Homo sapiens: one gene and its partners. The protein of the gene in region 3 purifies or fractionates together with the protein of the main gene of each other region. This does not show direct contact. Each region holds a gene or a part of one and is shown on either strand. Other genes may lie near its edges. The genes, in order: RAB18, OGN, SLC28A3, CDKAL1 and ACBD3.

Evidence for each region.
Region 1: the proteins of SLC28A3 (region 3) and RAB18 purify together in Homo sapiens (affinity purification with mass spectrometry; one large-scale study listed by BioGRID and IntAct). This does not show direct contact.
Region 2: the proteins of SLC28A3 (region 3) and OGN purify together in Homo sapiens (pull-down; one study listed by IntAct). This does not show direct contact.
Region 4: the proteins of SLC28A3 (region 3) and CDKAL1 purify together in Homo sapiens (affinity purification with mass spectrometry; one large-scale study listed by BioGRID and IntAct). This does not show direct contact.
Region 5: the proteins of SLC28A3 (region 3) and ACBD3 purify together in Homo sapiens (affinity purification with mass spectrometry; one large-scale study listed by BioGRID and IntAct). This does not show direct contact.

Annotation. Positions count from the first base shown.
Region 1 is NC_000010.11:27,527,311-27,532,214, forward strand, and holds part of RAB18 (ras-related protein Rab-18), read left to right. Parts: intron 1-4,218; coding exon of another isoform or gene 4,219-4,305; intron 4,306-4,904. UniProt on the Homo sapiens protein: The small GTPases Rab are key regulators of intracellular membrane trafficking, from the formation of transport vesicles to their fusion with membranes.
Region 2 is NC_000009.12:92,382,768-92,385,173, forward strand, and holds the end of OGN (mimecan isoform 2 precursor), read right to left. Parts: 3' UTR 501-2,406; downstream 1-500. UniProt on the Homo sapiens protein: Induces bone formation in conjunction with TGF-beta-1 or TGF-beta-2.
Region 3 is NC_000009.12:84,274,113-84,279,567, reverse strand, and holds the end of SLC28A3 (solute carrier family 28 member 3), read left to right. Parts: intron 1-182; coding exon 183-303; intron 304-1,168; exon of another isoform or gene 1,169-1,223; coding exon 1,224-1,350; 3' UTR 1,351-4,111; downstream 4,112-5,455. UniProt on the Homo sapiens protein: Sodium-dependent, pyrimidine- and purine-selective. Involved in the homeostasis of endogenous nucleosides.
Region 4 is NC_000006.12:20,546,863-20,552,416, reverse strand, and holds part of CDKAL1 (threonylcarbamoyladenosine tRNA methylthiotransferase), read right to left. Parts: intron 3,825-5,554; coding exon 3,712-3,824; intron 1-3,711. UniProt on the Homo sapiens protein: Catalyzes the methylthiolation of N6-threonylcarbamoyladenosine (t(6)A), leading to the formation of 2-methylthio-N6-threonylcarbamoyladenosine (ms(2)t(6)A) at position 37 in tRNAs that read codons beginning with adenine.
Region 5 is NC_000001.11:226,145,211-226,149,545, forward strand, and holds part of ACBD3 (Golgi resident protein GCP60), read right to left. Parts: intron 2,859-4,335; exon of another isoform or gene 2,793-2,858; intron 1,612-2,792; coding exon 1,400-1,611; 3' UTR 1-1,399. UniProt on the Homo sapiens protein: Involved in the maintenance of Golgi structure by interacting with giantin, affecting protein transport between the endoplasmic reticulum and Golgi. Involved in hormone-induced steroid biosynthesis in testicular Leydig cells.

The DNA of each region.
Region 1 (4,904 bases), on a different chromosome or scaffold from region 3:
TTGAGGTTTCAAACTTTGGGCTTATTTTTAATGCCTCGTTTTTCCTTACTGGCTTCTTTTCGTTTTCCTGTCAATCCAACCATTCTGATCCCCGTTACTGTACTAGCTAGACCGCTCATGCTAGTGTCAAATAAGGTAGCATTAACTGTCAAAAATATCCAAGATGCTTAGTGTCTATGTTTGTCTCTCTCTGTGTCTCCCTTTCATCAGTCTATTTACCCACCCACATACCGATCTATCTATATCTGTCTATCTAAATATGATCGGTTATATATATATATGTATATTCTAAATATATACTGTTTTATATATCTATTTTTCACATAGACTGTGATAATTATACATATATGTTTGTAATATAAGAAATCATATTAGAACTGATCAGTCATCAAATCGAGACTTATTTCCACATGGTGGTTAAATGGTAAATGCTGTTTGTACATCAGTCACAGATTGAAAACAGCAAGTGTTCATGCATTGTATGATGTCATATTTCTTGGCATTCTCTGAATGGCACACTGTTTCTAATACACATTTATCCCCAAATAACAAATAATTGTGTAAGTGTGTTTAATGTTTTTATGTCAGTTTTTCCTAACATACAATACTTTAAATTTGTTAACCTGTTTGCCCCTTTCCCCCAAATATGTTTAATATCAATCAGAACGGTAATGTCTAACAGAAAACAATTTGGAAAATGTTGGACTAGAGTATGGTAAAATGTGTTGAACGATATAAGAATGTTGGCTTTTTCCATACTAAAGTGGGGGCCTGATTTCCATATGCTTTTCATGGTTAATTTATTATCCCTTTCCGGCCTTGCTGCTGCTTTGTGAAATCCGTAGATTAGAGTAGTATCTGAGACTTGCTGGTTGCAGTGAGATTTTTCTCTCATAGTTTCGTTTTGTTTTAAATTTATTTTCTAGTTCCTGCCTAATAAAAAGGCTGGCAGGTATTATTGAAGAGACATTTTTACCATAGGCCTATAAACATTTTTTAAAGAAGAGAGGTTTTCCCCCTGGCTGTAAGAATAATACAGGGTCATTCTAAAAGGGATAATTGAGACAATAAGAAGAGCAGAGAAGAACATCTATAAAAGTATACCACTGAATACATTTTAGTGAGCATTCTTTAAAATATCAAGGGATATGTATACATACCACTATACATACCAGTATGTGAGTTTTCCAAAACAAAGGGATTATATTATATCTTACATTTTTAAACCTGTTTGTCCTCCTTTCCTACCACCTCACCCCCACTCATAGTATGTGCTGTATCCGTTTAGATGGCCAGCTAGTATTCCGTTTCATAGCTGTACTTTAGTCAGCCTTCAGTGAGAGATACTTACATTTTTGCCAGCTTTTCACAAAGATTACAGCTCTTTGAGCATCCTGATTTATACGTCTGTGTGTACTTGTCCAGTTACTTTAGAATGTGTAGCTGGAAGTAGAAATGAATATGAAGTCTTCACATTAATGTACACCAAAAAGCCTTTTTTTTCAGTTTATACTCCCACCAATTGTATTCATATTCATTCTGCCACATCCTTATCTCTACTGTTATCATTCTTTCTGTTTTTGCCTCTGAGTGTTGCTGTTTTACTTATATTTGCATTTCTTTTGATAAGAGATTTTTGCCTGTTTATTGATCATTTTAAAAAATAAGTTTTCTTTTTACATATTTTACCCATTTTATACGTTAGCATTCATCTTTTTCTTCATTAAAGTCTTTATATAATAAAATTATTAGCTCTTTGTCATGTGGTACAATTTTCTAAGCTATCATTTGCCTTTAAAATCATGTATCAGTTGAATATATGTTTGTGTTCTTGTGTGTGTGTGTAATACTGCCATATGCTACAGATTTTTTTTTCCAGTTTGTCATTTACCTTCCAATATTGTTAAGGATGAATATGGGGATGGGGAGGTGAAGAGGAGGTAAAGGGTGTTCTTGTCATTTCAAGGTTTTAATATTTATATGGTTGGATCAGCTATTTTCATCATGGCATTTGGGTGTAACGTATTTAGGAAGGCGTTTCCTCTGTATTAGAAATATATGAATCCATAGTTGCCTAATTCTTCTATAGTTTTATTTATAAAATGAGTTTCTCTCCTACTTGGAAGCTTCTTCTAGGATGAAATAGAATAATTAAGCATAGCCCTGCCCCTCCTACCTCCTGAAAGTGCATACTCATCATGACCTTGTTTTCTTCTACTGCCTTTTCCTATGTCCTTGCTTCACTTTCACTCCCTACATCTATTATTAAGCCTTTCTAGATCTTTCCTAGCCCTGAGTTTATCTATATATCTTTCAGTAATTTCTTCTCTCCTTCCCCCATCAGAAAATAAAACTACAGGATAGAGACAAAAAGCTGTGCTTCATTTATCTTACAAAGATGTTATTATACCTACCACATATTCCTGTTTTGAAAACAAACACAAGCAACAATCTAACTTCTATTTAAGCATATACACTTTATAGTTACTATAAATCCTGATGCGATGCTATTGCACATGGTTCCCTCCACCCCCTAAATTATAACACCTATTTAAACACTTTTGTAAGTGAATCCAAAAATGGCAAGCCTCTAAACATCTGGCCTAATTATTAATAAATATTCACAAGCAAAGTTTCAAAGTCAAGTGTAATATTTCAACATTAAAACTTTCTTGCTATGGTTTTTACTTTTAAAACATCAGGATTTATGGATATTTTAACTGGAATTGCAGTTCTGATTTTTATGTTGTGTTTCATTAAGGCAGTTTTTGAAGTTGATCTCAATGAAGACCAGAGAGAACAAAGTTCATGTTCACTTGTTTTTCTGCCAGCTCTGGAAGTTATGGATACAGTTTCCTTATGCAAATAGAATAAACTTTCTTCCTGTTATCAAAAAGTCTTGGGGCTAAAATATTTCATACTTGGTCCTTGCCTCAAACTATTTGTTATGAATATAGAACAGTGTTCCATGTATGGAAAAATAGCTGCTTCTTAAATTTCCAAATTCACTAATTCACTGTATAGAAAAATAGCTGCTTCTTAAATTTCCAAATTCAGTAATTCACTGTTCCAAATCCAAGGCTTGTCTTTTCAGTAATGGCTTTTCCTTCTTTTTTTTTTTTCTTTCTCTCTAAAACAGATAGTCTGTACTACTAAAAGTTAAATGCTTAACATGGTGCAGTTCTCAAAGTTATAATGTATCTGGATACTGAATAATTTGAATATTACTAATTTGTCATTTTTTGCATGTAAGCAGATAGCTAGGATACGTTCTCATAATGATTTGTCATTTAAAAATATACATTTTTTATTGAGTATGAATCAGATTGTCTGAAATAGGTACTAGTACAAGGCTATGAAGAGCATTTCTAGTTTCTTATTATATATATTACCAATTGCTTCCTAAAAGTGGTGACACTTTTACTGATACACATAGTAATCATTTTACTATGATATGCATAGTAGTTACATCTTTTGGCTTCTAGTTGATTACTTTTTTTTTCCCTGCAAATTTGGGTTTTGATTACTTGAGCATAGTGATCAAAAAAGATCACTGGGCATCCATATACCGTTTCATTAATGATTAATGGACTACAATATTGACTTGTCTCATGTTATCAAAGTTATAATCTGCTTTATATAGCAAGTTCACTTTGCTTTAAACAGCTTTTAATTTATATTATTGTTCTTGAAAAGGTGAGTAAATATGCAAATTGAATAATTTTAAAATCCAAGGCAGGTTTTGTAAGAAACTTAGAGGCAGAGAGAATTTTTGTAAAGAGAAAAATTATTTATTTTATAAATTTATCTGTTCAGAACATTTACTTTAAATCTGTTAATTCTTCACTTAAGCATGGCAGGGTGGGGATTAGTTTCTGTGGTGGTAAGGATCTGGAAGGAAAGGCTTTCAAATTTATGTAAGTGTATCTGTGGAAGAGTGGTGAATGTTCAAAGTGGTTTACATTGAAACGTTACTTTCCTCTTAAGTTTCTCTTCTGGGGTTATAAATGACTGCAGATCCTCCCTACTGTCTTGCTGAAGCCCCTCACGCCCCTGGTTTGAATTCTTCTCCAATCTTATAAACCTCTTACAGGTTATTCTAACATTTTTATATCTGGGGGAGCTTCTGCTTGTCCCATAACAAACCCTCATTTACAGCAGTGGGACTGGTAGCTAAGTTGAGGTTTGATACATGTTTTTACTTTTACTTTTCTTTAGGTTACTTTGCATCAGCAGACTGCAAACTTTTTCTTAAAGAGCCAGATAGGAAATAGTCCAATCCTGAAGTGGGCCATGTGGCAATACGTAAGCAAATAGGCCTGCTGTGTTTCAATAAAACTTTATTTAATAAAACAGGTGGTGGGCTGAGCTGCTTTGTATAATCTTAGGTACCTTGAATCCATAGTCCAAGGATGGTAGAAAGACAAGAGAGAGAAGGAATTGGGCCCGGAAGTAAAGGCTTGTTAAATAGGTTCATTCTTTTTTTTTTTTCTCAACAAATTCTGAGCAACTGCCTTTTTTCAAGAATTGGTCTCAGCACAATGGTTAAACTGGTGATTAAACAGATGAGTCCCTGCTTTATGAAATTTACATTTTCTACCTAGTGTACATTGTTCACTAACCCTAACATGAGTCAGAAATAACATGTAATAAAGAATGGCTTGGTTATATGCATTTTCTCAAAAGGAGATACATAGAAAACACTTAAAAGAGCCCAACCTAAAAATCTGTTACCTAAAGTAAGACATCCCATAATTTTCTTCAAATCAGTGGTTCTCAGCCTTGATTCTACATTAAAAGCACCTGGTAAGATTTAAAAAAAAAAAAATTCCTGTCATTACCTTAGACCAATTAAGCAGAAATTTTTTGGAAGCTAGACTCAAGATTCCCAGAAAATTTCATTG
Region 2 (2,406 bases), 8.1 Mb from region 3:
CTGAATGGTCTTTGTACTTTTGTTGAAAAGTATCTGACCCTATTTGGAAGGGTTTATTTCTGGGCTGTTTAATTTATTCTGTTGGTCTATATGTCTGTACTTACGCTAGTACCACACTGTTTTCCTTTTTTTTTTTTTTTTTTTTTTTTTAGACAGAGTCTTGCTCTGTCGCCTAGGCTAGAGTGCAGTGATGCGATCTTGGCTCACTGCAACCTCCGCCTCCTGGTCAAGCGATTCTCCTGCCTCAGCCTCCCAGTAGCTGGGATTACAGGCACCCGCCACCACACCCGGCTAATTTTTTGGAATTTTTAATAGAGACAGAGTTTAACCATGTTGGCCAGGCTGGTCTCGAACTCCTGACCTCAAGTAATCCACCCGCCTCAGCCTCACAAAGTGCTGGGATTACAGGTGTGAGCCATTGCGCCCAGCCACACACTGTTTTCATTACTGTATCTTTGTTGTAAATGTTGAAGTTAGGAAATGTGAGTCTTCTATCTTTATTCTTATTTTCAAGATTCTTCTCTTTATTTGGGGGTCTCTTGAAGTTCCATTTTATTTGTGTGAAAGCATCATTGAGATTTTGATGGCAACTGTGTTCAGTCTGCATATCATATTGGATAGTATTGTTGTCTTAACAACATTAAATCTTACCATCCATAAACACAAGACATCTTTCCATTTATGTATGTCTTTAGTTTTTTTCAGCAATGTTAGTAAAAAGTAAATCATTTAAAAATTTAAAGCCTCTAATTATTAGTGTCAAGAATGAAACATTATGAATATAATGGAGACAGCATATTTTTACTTTCTCTAATTATTTCGTCTGATATCTTCTGAATCTTGGTGGTATAATTTGTATTGTTTATTTTGTTTTATTTGTGATTTAAGGTTGTGTATATGAAGGTGTAAGGTATGCATGTTCATATATATCCTCTTATCTAGAAATCCCCAAATTATTTCTTTAATTCTGGAATTCATACCTTTTACCAATGTTCTTTCTCCCTTATCATTATCTTATCTAAAACTACTGACTTTTGAATTTTTTCTTAATTTGAGAGTTATTTGATGGTGTTTTGCTCCATAAGTTTTATCATAAAAATAATATAGGAATACATTATTTTTCTGAAAACTAGAAAGATGACAGTCATTCAAGATTATGATAGTTTAAAGATTCAATTTTTCCAAATAAAACAGAACCCTTCTATTTAGATGGATTTTATTTTGCAATATTTATTATATATTCAATTCAAATGTACTCACTATTGTGCTAGGCAATTGAAAGTAAAAAGTATAAAGCTGCATTTTGCGCTCTCAGTGAGGTTTAAGTCAGGGAAATGAGGCATGCACACAAAATAACGAGAAAGTAGTATAATAGCTGTGATCATTAGTTATCAAAATAAGTGAATGAGCTAATAATCATTGTTAGAATAATAATTGTGTTCTTAGATCTCAGATGCTTTAATGAAAAATGTTATCTTGAGGTCAACTTTGACAAATGGGGAGATAACTGAAAAACATCTGACATTCTAGGTAGGGAAAACAGAAGCAAATGCTTAAAAATGGGAATAAGTATGTATTCTGTACACAGAGACAACTTGATTTCAATACATACTTTATGGTGGAAATAATGTTTGTACTTTTACTTACACAGTCCGGACTCATGTTTCTAAAACACTGATAATTTTGTGTTTAACTTCAATGTAATGTGTAGTCTAATACTTTTAGTGGGGTACAAGTGAGAGGAATGTTATTTTAGAAACTTTACTCTGGCACCACTGAGTCATCATAAATTATTACTCTCAGATAGAAGATTTAATTCTTGCAGTTAGCCATGTCAGTTTATCATGAGTAATCAGAAAGTGTTACTCAGAAGCTTTATTGTGAATATTCAGTTTGTTACAGTGAACATGGATGTGTATGGGTGGGAAGGTAGTGTGCACTGGCACCACAGAATATTCTGTTTTCATCTTATGCTTGAACTAATTTATTGATGAGATTCTCATTTCTGTAGTATAAAAGGAAAATATTTTGCAGTTATCTCGTATTTGAAAGACTTTGCCATAGAGAACTTTATCAGAAATGGATGAACTTTTCATTATTTCTTATAAGCATATTGGTTTTGGCCTGCTTGAGTTTAAAACTTTTTTTGGTAGACTTAGAATGTTAATATTTAGATAAAGAAAATATTTTACTGAAGACATTACCAGAAAGTAAAATAACTTGAACATTTCTGTATTAGCTCTTTATCAGAGAATAACATTTATTTTATTTGGAAAGTTTTCCTAAATATGAGACTATCTGCTATTTCTCAGACTAAGTGAAAAATTTAATAAAATAGCTGCCTTGATAGGAGGAAAACAAAGTTCTTACTTTATAAGGAATAACGTATGAATCATAAAAGAAGAA
Region 3 (5,455 bases):
TGGGAGGCTGAGGCACTTGAATCGCTTGAACCCGGGAGGCAGAGGTTGCAGTGAGCAGAGATCATGCCACTACACTCTAGCCTGGGCAAAAGCGCAAGACTCTGTCTCTAAATAAATAAATATATAAATACATAAATAAAACTAAAAAATAATAAATAAATGGGACTCTGTTCCACTTCTAGGCATACTCTCCAGCACTCCTGTGGACATCAACTGCCATCACGTTTTAGAGAATGCCTTCAACTCCACTTTCCCTGGAAACACAACCAAGGTGATAGCTTGTTGCCAAAGTCTGTTGAGCAGGTATTGTATTCTTGATTATAATTTCTTTATACTCCATTAATAATCAATCAAATCACACCTAAATATCCACTTACTTTTTTTTTTTTTTTTTTGAGACGGAGTCTTGCTCTGTCTCCCAGGCTGGAGTGCAGTGGCGCAATCTCCGCTCACTCATCGACTTAATTTTATAACTTTATGACTCTATTTAAAAGTAAGAACTTATGCAGTGATTCTAACCACCTTTCACTCTGACTTTTCTCAGATAAGGCTAGCAACTATAACACTAGCTAGTGCTACTCAAGCATTTAATATGCACCCAGCTGTGTGTTACGCACTTTGTATGAATTAGCTCACTTAAACCTTGCAACTACTGTATAAGTTGGGCACTATCTTTTTTTTTTTTTTTTCATTCCACAAAATTAAGGCTTAGGGAAGCTATGTCTACTCCAGCAAAATTAGCACAAGTACAAGTGAGATACAAAATTCAGGCTGATCTTCCTGCTAAGCCTATGCCCTTAACTGCTACCCTCTGCTGGCTCCCCTTCAAGGGGATCCAGGCTGTCCAGACAACACGATGATCGTCTATGGTGAACAAGAAACTACCAGTGACCCATGCCAGCCACCCCCACCCTGTACAGTTTTAATTTGCAAAATCAGTGTTCCCACACAAGGTGCCATCCTTAATGTGCAAGTGTTTTATAAGGATTGATTCTATCCTATCTTTGCTTGTTATGGAGGAAATAGGGAAAGTTCTTGAGGACACCCAGAATTTAGGAGCCAAAACAAATTCCCCAGTGTCTCTGTCCTTTAATCCACCCTAACCAGAATGTGAGCAAGAAAATCAGCTTCCTGCCCTGAACTATTTTTAATGTCATTGTCTGCTCACCTACTGTTTCTGCCATCTATGGCTCATGTAACTGTTTCTTTCCACTTTCCACCAGCACTGTTGCCAAGGGTCCTGGTGAAGTCATCCCAGGAGGAAACCACAGTCTGTATTCTTTGAAGGGCTGCTGCACATTGTTGAATCCATCGACCTTTAACTGCAATGGGATCTCTAATACATTTTGAGGTCAGCCACTTCTCCAGTGGAACTCTGAAGTACAGATGCTGAATTTTCTGCTTTGGAAAGAAAAAAAAAAGAAGCTATTGTCCACAGATTGATGCTTCCATAATGGAATCAGCTTTAATTGCAAGGAATGAAGAAAAACAAGAGTGGACCTTCAAAGCTACAACATTTTCCTCCTCCCCTCCCTCCCCACCAGCCCCTTCCCCACCAAGAACTGCTATGATGTCCCAAAGTGAGGTGTTGTTGATTCCAGTCTCAATGGGATTTTCTGACTTTAATGTTTGCAAGGCATTTCACCAGAATACAGCTATAAACGGCCGCTCCCAACAACTGGGCTCTGACTCACCCACACCCACTTAGTGTCCACTAAGTAGTCCAGGGTGACTCAGTTTAAGCACATCTCAGGTGAGGTCACTCTGCATATACCTTGGCTTACCTGAAATAGCCTGAACTTGAATCTCACATAAGGGAAAACTAGTCATCAATCACCAACTCATTGACTACCCTCAGGAAGTCCTGCAGAAATCAAGAGTCCTTGAGGAGAACACGTGGATCATACCAAAACCAGGGTTTAAATCCATTCTGCTTAAGAGTTCTATCAGTCAGTTTAACCATAAATTACGCTACAGAAACAAACAACCCAAAAACCTCAGTGGCTTACAGATTTATTTTTCACTCACATGTTTGTAATGATCCATCTTGGTTGTAATCCATATTGCTTCAGCACCCAGTCTAAAGGAGCAGCCTCTAAGGGGGGCATGTTGGTCTTAAGAGGGAAAAGAAAGGTGGGAACCACATGATGGCTCTTTCATCTTCCGCTAGGAAATGATACCCTTTACTTCCATGACATTCCATTAGCCAAAACAAGTCCTGTGACAGGCACGATGTCAGTCACCACAGTTAAATTATCCTGTCATAGGGAGGGATAGTGAATATTTTGCAGAAGTAATATGATACACCATAAGGGTACATAATATCCATGTCTCCCTTCAAGGAGCCATCCTGTTGTAGGCCATAACGGTAGGCCTATTCATCTGCACATTTGGTAATGTATTCCTGGTGACAAAGCAGCTACTCTTCAATCAAAAGCCGTGTAAGAAGCAGTTGAGGAAAAAAAGTCCTGGTTGAGCTCTGAAAACCTTGCGTTGATAATTTCATTGACCAGGATGGCATCAGTATCAAACTTGAAGAATGGGTGTCAGTGTCTAAGAAAAAGATTCCAGAGACAATGGTGGTGTGCTCTTTAACGAAATGCCCATCACCACTGCTCTTAATAGCATGAAGACCACATGCTGTGAGAAAACACAAACATCAATTACCAAGTCAAGAAACAGACACTGAATGTGAAAAAGGTTTTGAAATACCTTAAGTAATTTATTTTGTTTCTATTTTTCCTTCTGTTTGTGTACAAGAGTAATTTAAAAGAAAAAGCTATGTGAAAATAGTTGGGGTTTTTTGTGTGTTTTGTTTTTTGTGGTGGTGAAGGAGGAGGCCTAATGTCCAGAGGACTGTTTATCCCTGAAGTATGATATACTAAAATATTTCTTATTATTTGTATCAATTTTCCTTGGAGCTCAATGTGCCCTTGCAGTCTTCAGACTTTATTTTAGGAAAATATATTTGCATGTTTTCCCCCCATTCTCAATGTTTGGTGTCCTGGTTCATCATACCCCACAGAATGTTATGTTTATGTATCATACCATTCCTCTGTGGACATGCATTTACTTTGTTTACAGGTTTTGGTTTGGGGGTTCTCTTTTTCCTACTCTGGACAGTGCATGTACATTTACTTTGCATGCTGGTGCTTTTTTTTCTATAGCAATAGTGTCTGATAGACATATGCAAGTCACATGTAATTTAAGATCTAGTAGCCACGCTAAAAAACAAGTAAAATTAATTTTAATATATTTAACTCAATACATTGGAGATATTATTTCAGTAAGATATTTTTCATTCTTATGAAACTAAGTCTGTCTGGTTTGCATATCTCAGTTGAGACACTAAAGTTTTACTGATAATACTTAATCCATGTTTAGATTTCATAAAATCTAAATTTGCAAAGTAAATTTACATACCCATGTTGGTCTAAATGTGCTTAAAAGTTTTCCAATAACTGAAATGAGTATCAGTTTTAAATTTAAAAATTTGTTACTTGGTTACTCCATATTTCAGGTATTAGTGGCTACCATATTGGTCAGAGCAGATTCATAGGATGATTTCCCAGGTTTGAAGTGTGTGTATATTTCTGGTATTATAAGATGTCAGACTGGTTTTTGGAGAAATATGTTGTCTTAATTTTTACCTGCTTTGATATGACCTTTCTGTGTGTACGTGTGACATTTCTTTATAAATGCAACATGTTCACATAGGTCCTACGTTGATTCCTTATTAATGCTGTGCATCCTTGAACTGAGAAAGGGGGTGTTATTCCTGAGCTATATTATAAGAGGATAGTAAAGGCCAAGGACCAGGAAAATGAGCTGGTTAAGCCTCTTGAGCTTGTTACCCCCAGAAACCTCACCAATACCCTGTGAACGTCGTAAGTGGCCCTTCTCCCAGTGAAACAACCTAATGGAGGTTTTTGGTGCATGGTGATGTTTTTATTCCTCTTTAGTAGACATAGAAGCTGGAGGCTGCTTGTCTTCCCCAGTTTCTCCTTCACCCATGTACATATAGTGGGCAAAGATGGCATGCCTATGTTTTTCAGCTGTTTGAGCCCGCTCACTGTTGACAGATTGTTGCTGTTGGTCTGTGCTCCCCAACCTTGCCTCAAGCCAGGGCTGCAACATCTCCCTGGGAGAACTCCGTACTCTGTCCAGTCCACCCATGAAATCCAAAGCCCCTAGCCGCCTGTGTCTTCCCACTGGTAGTTTTCGCTAACCTGAAAGCCCCTTTTGGTATACAGTATTATGGTTCCAGATATGAGTGTTTCCTCATTTCAATGAAGATGGAAGTTTACTGCTGCTTATTCTCCGTGTTGTTTTCTATTGGTTTGCAAAAAACAGGGAGAGGGGCAGAAATGATATTTCTCTTCGCAATCCAGAAACTGGTTATAAACAAATTCTCTGACCCTGGAGAGGCCTTAGGGTCTCAGCCAAAAATAGATTTGAGTCATGGGATACACAGCATTGTCTGATTTTTTTTTCTTCCCATTGGTAAAGTCAACATATCCCAGCAGTTAGGTCTAAGTGACAGTCTCTGTAACTATGCAGATTACTAACAGGCATTCATTTTGCAAATGCTCCCACTTGATTGCTTTCATATTTCTGTAGTTTAATTAGGCTGGTAGGGCACTGTGAACAGCTTAAGATGTGCACTTGTCCAATAAGACTGATTTCCAGTTACAGAACAATTCCAAAAATCAAGTATGCTTATAAAGAAGGTATTATAAGCCAACAAGGACACAGTGTGCCAGGAAGGATTAAGTTACCCTGACTGTACGGGAGTGGGGCAAGGGGAGGCAATCACTCACATTTTACAAAGGTAGGAGCGTAGGACTCAATAACTGTCTCTGGTACAGGTACACCATGTGGTGCTAATGAACCATATGGTCCAAAGAAAGGCTGCTCTTTACAGCCTGTTACTTAATTTTGTTTTAAGCTCAAGCAGGAAGAAAAGCGTAGACTTTTCTTTTTCTAGCTCTAAAAACTACACAACCTTGTGATGACAATGATATTTTCCTTTATATCACAAAGGCAATGTGACTGCTCCTTGGTTATAGAATGAGTACTTTAAACCTGTTTATTAGTGGGCTACTTTGCATTTTCATTCCAGGAAACTTTGGAGATTAAACAGTGAACCTACATCAAGTCAGCCCTTCTTAACCATTATGCATTTTGCAAAATGGAAGGACAGTGGCTGGTATTAGGGATATAGCCTATAGCCACAGAACAGAGAAAAGTACTCAAGTGACAACCTTGAAATTTAGTCCTCTGGCCACTGACAACCAACCACTTTGCCATGAGAAACCAGGATTAGGAAAAAACTGAAGTCTTACAAGCCATATGAACACAAAGAATTAGAGCCTACCTCTTCCAAGTACTGGCCATGCTTCCAATAATATTCATAAAATAAGAGGATAGGAAAACCTTAGGTCATTCAGAAATG
Region 4 (5,554 bases), on a different chromosome or scaffold from region 3:
TGACATAGAAAAAGTCAATATCTGATTTTCCTTATGTTTTAGGAAATTATCTCAGGGCCTTTTTTTTTTTGAGATAGGATCTCACTCTGTTGCCCAGGCTGAAGTGCTGTGCACAGAACAGCTCACTGCAGCCTCTACCTCTCAGGCTCAAGCGATCCTGCCACCTCATCCTCTCAAGTAACTGGGACTACAGGCAAAGACCAACACACCTGGCTACTTTTTAAATATTTTTGCAGGGCCAGGGTCTCACTATGTTGCCAACACTGGTCTCAAACTACTGGGCTCAAGCGACCCTCCCACCCTCTCTCACCTCGGCCTCCAAAGTGCTGGGATTACAGCAGGCATGAGCCAACACACCCAGCCTTTTTTTTTTTTTTTTCCTTAGGGTATTTTCTTAGCCAGGCACACAACTGTAGTCCCAGCTACTTGGGAGGCTGAGGTAGAAGGACCACTTGAGCCCAGGAGCTTGGGGCCAGCCTGGGCAAACATAGTGAGACCTGTCTCAAAAATAAATAAATATAAATCAATAAATAAATTCTATTTTCTTAATACTCAAACTACACCATCAGAATATGGTAAGGCAAGCCCAGGCTAAATTATACTAAAAATTACTAATGAATATAGAGAAGTAATTCTGAAAGCATATTTTGACCATTTTTAACTTAAAGGACAGAAATATTAAGACTCATTTTGCCATCTAAAGAATATGTTATAAAAAATACAAAATTAATAACATAAGGTATTTTAGGCCAGGCGCGGTGGCTCACACCTGTAATCCTAGCACTTGGGGAGGCCGAGGCGGGTGGATCACGAGGTCAAGGGATCGAGACCATCCTGGCTAACACGGTGAAACCCCGTCTCTACTAAAAAAATACAAAAAAATTAGCCAGGCATGGTGGTGGGCACCTGTAGTCCCAGCTACTCGAGAGGCTGAGGCAGGAGAACGACATGAACCCAGGAGGCGGAGCTTGCAGTGAGCTGAGATTGCACCACTACACTCCAGCCTGGGTGACAGAGCGAGACTCCGTCTCAAAAAAAAAAAAAAAGATATTTTAGTTACTGAAGGAAAAAGGGTGATACAAGGACTAGGTTTCCAATCCTCCTTAATCATTACATGCTGTCTTATAGCTAGGACTTGCCAATTACACATGCAAAGGCAGCCATGAGGTACAGAACAATGGTCAGGAGCAGTGTTTGGAAGTGACAAAGGACTTCACTGCATATGTGATTTAAGATAAGACGCAACCTCTCAGGCCGAGCACAGTGGCTCACGCCTGTAATCCCAGCACTTTGGGAGGCCAAGGCGAGTGGATCACGAGGTCAGGAGATTGAGACCATCCTGGCTAACACGGTGAAACTCTGTCTCTACTAAAAATATGAAAAATTAGCCAGGCATGGTGGCGGGCACCTGAAGTCCCAGCTACTCGGGAGGCTGAGCCAGGAGAATCCCTTGAACCGTGAGGCGGAGCTTGCTGTGGGCCAAGATCGCGCCACTGCACTCCAGCCTGGGAGACAGAGCAAGACTCTGTCTCAAAAAAAAAAAAAAAAAAAAAAAAGACACAACCTCTCCTTTCTCAACTGTAAAGTAGGGGTGCCAATATTTCCTCCTACTCAAGGACTAAGCAAGATAACATACATAAAGCACCGGGTCAGTGCCTGTCACAAAGCATTCGAATTATAGTTCCATTTAGTACACATAATAGATACAGAAATAGCTACAGATGCGTGCATATGTGTGGGTTACTATTCATACATAATTCCTAGCTCCATCCCCCAAGAGGACCTCACAACAGCGACACCTCACGGTGGCAACGAGCAAGCATATTGACTGCCCAGATCCCCTTTTCTAAATGCCATTCTCTTAATGAAAAAAATCAGGACTCCTTGGAAAACTGGTTGCTTCCAAGACTGGGGAAGGGAAAATATGAGAGATTAGAACATTTTGTGGTGCCAGGAAATAAAGAAGTGCTCAAAAAAAAGATGCCGGCATGCTGAAAAGACACAGGAGCCAGCCTGAACAAGATCCTAATGGCCAAGATTGGAACAACAAGCAGCATAATACATAATGATAGTATCAGACTATATCCACAGGATAAAATAAATATCCATGAGTCTGTACTGATAGAAATAACTAAGACGGGCCAGGTGCAGTGGCTCATGCCTGTAATCCCAGCACTTTGGGAGGCCAAGGCAGGTAAATCACCTGAGATCAAGAGGTCTAGACCAGCCTGGCTACCATGGCGAAACCCCATCTCTAAAAAATACAAAAAATTAGCCTGGTGTGGTGGCGCATGCCTGTAATCCCAGCTACTTGGGAGGCTGAGGCAGGAGAATCCCTTGAACCCCGGAGGCAGAGGTTGCAGTGAGCCGAGATCACAACACTGTACTCCAGCCTGGGCAACAAAGCGAGACTCTGTCTAAAAAAAAAAAATTTAATTAATTAATTAAGATGGAGAAGAATGGACAGCTCTTCCTTAGAGAAAAACTCCAATTAATAAATGTAAAGAGGAGGCTGGGCGCAGTGGCTCACACCTGTAATCCCCGCACTTTGGGAGGCCGAGGCGAGTGGATCACTTGAGCTGAGGAGTTCGAGACTAGCCTGGCCAACATGGTGAAACCCCGTATCTACTAAAAATACAAAAGTTAGCCAGGCATGGTGGCATATGCCTGTAATCCTAGCTACTTGGGAGGCTGAGGCAGAAGAATCGCTTGAACCTGGGAGGCAGAGGATGCAGTGAGCTGAGATCGTGCCACTGCACTCCAGAATGGGGCACAAAGAGACCCCATCTCAAAGTAAATAAATAAATAAATAAATAAATAAATAAATAAATAAATATAAATGTAAAGAAAACAAGATAGCAGAAAATCACCATTAAGTAAACACCACAGTAATAACTGTTGCAGACAAGATCCACCAGTAGATACTAAAATTAACAGGCCAAAGGTTGAGGAGAAATAGGATGTTTATTAGTTGTAATGAGAAAAACAGTGACTGTATTGGAAAGAAACCTAGCAGACATGGGTTAGTGTACCAGTATAAGACACACTGACATCATGACCCCGATATGACGCACTGAGAAAAATATAGTATCGCTTCTGTTCTCTGCTTGCCAAAAACCCAGAACCTCATTCTAATCATGAGAAAAAGACCAATTCAAGTTGAAGGACATTCTACATAATAATCATTTTCATCAGAAATATCAAGGAAATGTTTTCTTCAGAAGTGTCAAGGTCACAGAAGACAAGAAAAAATTAAGAAACTGTCACAGATTGGAGGAAACTAAGGGGACATGAAACTAAATGTAAGGTGGGACCCAACATTAGATCTTGGGACAGAAAAAGGAAGTTAATGGGAAAACTGGTAAAATTCAAATACGATCTACAGTTTAGATAACAGAAATGCACTAATGTTAATTTCCTGGTTTATTAATGATATTACAACTACGTAAGATGTTAATATCAAGGGAAGCTTGGTGATGGGCATATGTGAACTCTCTAATTTTACTACTTTTCTGAAAGTCTAAACTTATTTCAAAATAAAAAGTTTTTTTAAATATGACATCCATGGTTATCTACAAAATGTGTAATAACTATCTGTTTCACCTTAAAATCACTGTCATGCTAAAATACCCTTTAACTGCTAGGCTATTTATCTCTAAAAGCTTAATTCTGAAAAATTTAATCAATAAAATATATTATAGATCTCATTACCTGTAATTTTATAGCCATAAGCAGCTAGCTGTCCAGCCATATATTCTCCATCTGAATTATTATGAGAACAACCCCATGTTCGTATCCAAATTTTCTGTATGCCTGGAATAGTGCTGTTAAGGAATCAATAAAAAAAAAAAAGTAAGTTTCATTGAGTGATTTTTTTTTTTTTTGATCCAGGGTCTTGCTCTGTTGCCCAGGCTGCAGTGCAGCTGTGTGACCACAGCTCACTGCAACCTCAACCTCCCAGGCCTAAGGGATCCTCCCATCTCAGCCTCCCAAGTAGCTGGGACTACAGTCATGCACCAACACACCTGTTAATTTTTCTTATTTTTTGTAGAGACAGTGGCCCACTATACTGTCCAGGCTGATCTTGAACTCCTGGGCTCAAGTGATCCTCCCACCTTGTCTCCCAAAGTGCTGGAATTACAGGCATGAGCCACCACTACACCCAACCTCATTGAGTTATTTTTAAAATAAAAACCACTAGATGATTTTAAGATATATTACACAAAAAACAAACTCACTACAATCCATTCAAAAGCTATTCATTAAACGCACCAACTTAACTCAAAATCTGTTGTTGTATCAAAAGTCTAAAATCAAGATAAAATAACCACAGAATTCTAAAAAGTTAACACTCCACATAAAAAAATATCCTTTTTCTCTGAATTGCATTTTAAATTCATACTACTAACTTACTAAGTTCAACTCCTGGAAAGGTACACAAAAATAACAATAGGAAAGAAAGTGGTTCTAGCAGCAATGGCAAATAAAGAAAAGTATGTCTGTTTACAGATTCCTACATACTAGTTGCAATCTGTAGCTTCCTTAAAACTTACAGATATAAGTAACTTAATCAAAGTTAAAAACCGTCATCCTAAAGCATTATTAAAAGCACTCTATAAAATCAGAGTTCTAAAAATAACTTTTAGGGGAAAAAAGGACTTTCAACTTGGATTGCTCTAATAATTTATAAGTAAATAAAAATTACCTTAAGGACACATTTAGGACAAATTTTATAAACTTCAGTCATTAAAATATAAGCAAATTTTAAATTCCAAGAATTTAAAAGCTTAGTTTCCCAACAAAATAAGCAGATTATAAAGTTCAGCAGTTGACTAGATAAACAAATATAGGCTTATTAAAACCATATAATTACATTATCCTTTCTGGTTAGGTTGTATCAAAATTTCACGGACTAGAGATCTACTATAATAGCGTAAATAGGGCAATAATTTATTTGTGCCCACTGCCTTTACCTGATCCACAGGTATTTGAAAATCAGCTAAGAAAATTCAAATGTCCAAAATACTACTGTCTCATAAGAATCACAAACTCTGGTAAAAATTTTATTTGGAAATAACACAGACTTACATATCAACTACAGTAATACCCAAGAGATCCCTATTGCCCGAGGCTATCTTCTAGGAACATCCAATTTGACATCTCATTTCTTTTTAACCAATTACCTTGCCAAATTTAAAATCATTCAAATAAAAAAAAAATCTACATACAGGTTGAGTTTCTTTAATTCAAAAATTCAAAATCCACAATGCTCTAAAATCTGAAACTTTTTGAGTGCCAAAATGATACTCAAAGGATGCTCACTGGAGCATTTCAGATGTTTGGATTAGGAATACTCAACTGGAAAGTATGTAATGCAAATATTCCGAAATCCAAAAAAAAAAATGTGATATCTGAAACACTTCTGGTCTCAAGCATTTCAGATAAGTGATACTCAACTTGTATTTCCTATCAAAAGTTCAAAGATTCTAATGAAGAGACATTATATATATCACACAGACCAGTAGCGTCAGCTTCTCCCTGGAATGAAAATGAA
Region 5 (4,335 bases), on a different chromosome or scaffold from region 3:
AAAACCAGGTATTAAAAAACAGAAAGAAATACAGCACACAAAAAACTCAAACAACCCATATGTAGTGAACTGTATATACTGCAGTTAATGAAAACCCTCCTACAAGAAGTGATTTAGGATTTGAAATTTTAAAAATCTAAGTACTTCAGTAACAACATACAATAACAACATTAAGTGTATATTGCCATCTTTGTCATTTTCTATCTATACCACTCTCCCTTCTGAAAACAAGAATCACTAGCCAATCACTTATACAAATTTGAGGCAATTAATCCATATTTGTTTTCAGTAAGGAAAAAAAGATGTACCTCTTCCCGTCAATAAAGAAATAACACAAATTAAAGCTATAAAATTTAAGCATGGGCATATGTATTTCCAATTCTCCTTAATAAGTAATTCCAAACTGGAATAATGTGGGGTTTGTGACTAAGTAGTAACAAATTAAAAGAAAATAGACTGTCTCTGGCAGTGATTTCCATATTAGTGCAATGTTACTTCCCATATGCTGAATTATATTTAAATGATTTTATGTATTTTAATTCAGTAGGTGCCAATTTGAGTTTATAAAATCCTTAATTTTATTCTTTGTGCAGAAAAGTTTCAATTTGAGATACTCTATGAAGCCAAAACAAAACAAAACAAAACAAAAAACCTGTATTTTGCTACTAGTAGTATGAATACCAAATAAAGATACAAGGATTCAAAGTTTGTGGAAGTTCCTGAAGAAAAATCTCTGAGGTGTTCTACGTATCTTGATACTTCAATTATCAATTAGTTTTGAACATTCTAGTTTAAGATTATCTCAGAAAATAATTCTCTGTAATATAACTCTGAACTAAACAGCTGCACCCAAAGCAGAAACAATCTGGGTCATTCTGAACGAGATCAAACTGAGGCCATTTCTTTTTCTATTATAATCTGTGAGGTGTTGAGTTTTTAAGTTTTAAAAATGGCCTTTAATCAAAGCCAGCTGCACCTGATATAGACTTGTTAACTTATGGATTTCAAATTAGAGGACACTGTAACTACGGGCTCTCATAAGACACATGGAGCAGGCAGCAAGGGGCTAACCATCAGCCGGGTAAGGTCAACGTTGGGGTGTTTTATTTTGGAGACTTTAAATATTTAACATGTAGCTCATGTAACTTCAGCATCCACTAGTGACTCTGCTGGTCAGCACCCAAGGGCTGGATGAGTCTGAGGAATCTCCTTTAACCCCAAAGTATGAATGCTAAAGAGTCTCAAGGAAATTTTGATTCCCAGCAAGAGTTCACAAACCATCAGACCAATATCAATAAGGTAAACTGTGACTCTAATGCTCCACAAAAGTAAAAAGAAATTTCCAAATTAAATGTCATCTTCTGCCCAACCCTAGACTCCAGACTTTGTAACAACATTTTTATCTAGTATAATAGACTCTGTAGTAGACTGATTTTGACCGCCACAAAGAGTAGGAGTTGTCAAACTTGAGGAGATAGACTCCTCTCCCTGGATATTGATGGCTGCCAGCATACACCTCCTCATGACAGTCCCGTCGGTACACAGGCACAATCTCATCCAGCAAAGGCTTGTTGGCATTCTTTTTGGCTTTCTCTTCACAACCGATGTTTTCTGTAAGAACAGAGACAAGTCAATGAACAGATTCAGGAAAACCACACTTGCATCAGGCAATTAAAATCTATCCTTTCTTTTTTTTCTGGAGACAGAGTCTTGCTCTGTCACCCAGGATGGAGTGCAGCGGCGTGATCTCAGCTCATTGCAACCTCCACCTCCTGGGTGCAAGCGATTCTCCTGCCTCAGCTTCCCAAGTAGCTGGGATTACAGGCGTGCACCACTACATCCAGGTAATTTTTGTATTTTTAGTAGACATGGACTTTCACCATGTTGGCCAGGATTGTCTCAATCTCCTGACCTTGTGACCCACCTGCCTCGGCCTCCCAAAGTGCTGGGATTACAGGCGTGAGCCACCGTGCCCAGCCTATCCTTTCTTTGAGAAACTGCTCTTGTTGGGAATTCTGTTGAACCATTTAACAAGTTATGTGCATGTGAGCATTTATTAGTTCGTTCATTCATTCATTCATTCACTCATTCATTCAAATACCTAAGTATGTGCTATACACCAAACCCTGTTCTGAGCCCTGGGAGCCCAGTGATGAACATCTAGTGGTAGCAGTGGTCAGCATCCTATCTCTTTCTGTGCTTACTACCATTCCTATTTCAAGGTCCCATTTTCCCCTTTCCATAGCCATTCAATTCCTAATTCATCCTCAGGAATTTCACTCATCTGAGTAACATGAAAATGTTGCTCTCATCATCCTCCTTCTGACCAATATGAGTCCTCCCCATTTTAGAAAGATGGAAGATGATTTGTGAGGACTATTGCTTTCTGTATATCTTAAATATAAGCAGTAAAATGAAAAAATCATAGTAGAGAGATAGGCATTCAGAGATACTCTGAAAATTCAATTATTTTCACTAGGCCAATTTAACCCAGAGATGATCTAAGTGGCAAAAAATGGGCTCTGAAAGGTTTGCCCCGGTTAAGAGTTTTTTGAACTGTAATGCTATGAGGTTAGGAAAAAAAATGCCTCTAGAAACCTACAGGAATGAGAAAATTATGAACCAGCTTCGAAGTCACAGTTTAACATATTTAATACAAACCAGCTCAAAGAGGTCAAGGGAGTATTCAGCACAGAAGACAAGACTTTCGGGTTTATGGTTGTTGTTTTTGTTTGTTTGTTTGTTTAAGAGACTGGGACTACAGGCATGGATTTTCAGGTTTATAACATGGCAGAGTGAATTCTGGCAACACACTGAGTGATGCTTGTCAATGGCCACTATCAGGAATTTAAAACAAGGTAAGTTTGAGAAATTCTCACCGTCTATAGCAGATTAAGGAGATATGATGACTGACTATAATGTGGCATCCTGGAAAGGATCTTGGAACATTAGGTAAAAACTAAAAACATCTGAATAAATATGGACTTTAGTTAATTAATGAATCAATGTATCAATATTGTTTCATTAGCTGTGATGAGTGCACCACAGTACAATGTAAGATGCTAACAACAGAGGGAACTTGGTGCAGGGTATATGGGTACTCTTTGTGCTATCTTTGTAACTTTTCTGTAAATCTAAAACTATTCTAAAATTAAAAGTTTATTTTAAAAAAGCAGATGGCACTCTTATAAAGGTAGGTCAAAACCAGATTTACTTAACCACAGAAATACCTATAATTAAGCATGTTTCACATGCAAATGAGAAATACAGAACCATCCAAAATGTACACTATTGTTGACATCCAAGAAATAGACTGGTCCATTGATTCAAGACTCAAATTTTGTTTTAAATCTATAAAACTAAAGATTACTGGGATAGATGAAAAGGCATCTTTTATGAATTTAAGCCAAGGTTTAGGACCTGTAAACAATGAAGAAAATGGAGAATTAAAACAGGAGGATGTGTTACCATCCATGCTTCTTCAGAGAAAGCAAACTCCTCTGTCTACCTTTCAAGACCTAAGGAAGAAAAACCAAACCAAAACCCAAAAAACTCAGACTCTTCTACCATATGAAATACAAGACACGGTAGGACAGTAGCTTCTAAGGCATATGGACAAATACAATTTGTGAGCTAAATCTTTAAATGGGATGAAGTGACGCTCATGTAATGAACAATTCTTAGGAATGATAAAGCTTCACTGCTGTGAGGCTAAAATGTTTTAGCTGCAAATCATTTTATGATTAGGAATGGTACAAGTACAGGGAATGCCATCTTTCATTTGAGGGACATATTAGAACTAAGATCAAGGATATTAAGGTTCTTACCTCTAGAAATGAACCCCTGCCATTTTCACTAGTGATCTTCCCAACACCAATATAACCCCAAAACTATCATCAGCTGAGGGTTCAGACTAGGCAGTAACCACCTTTTAGAAGCTCTCTAATAGGCAAGCCAGGAGAAATACATTACCTCAACCAACTTCTGAACAGAGAATTCTTATTCACAAAGCTCTTTCATTTTTTTTTTTTTTTGAGACGGAGTCTGGCTCTGTCGCCCAGGCTGGAGTGCAATGGCACGATCTCAGCTCACTGCAATCTCCACCTCCCGGGTTCAAGCGATTCTCCTGCCTCAGTCTCCCAAGTAGCTGGGATTACAGGCATGTGCCACCATGCCTGGCTAATTTTTGTACTTTTAGTAGAGATGGGGTTTCACCATGTTGGCCAGGCTGGTCTTGAACTCCTGACCTCAGGTGATTCACCCACCTCAGGCTCCCAAAGTGCTGGGATTACAGGTGTCAGCCACTGCGCCCAGCCATCTTTTTTTTTTTTTTTT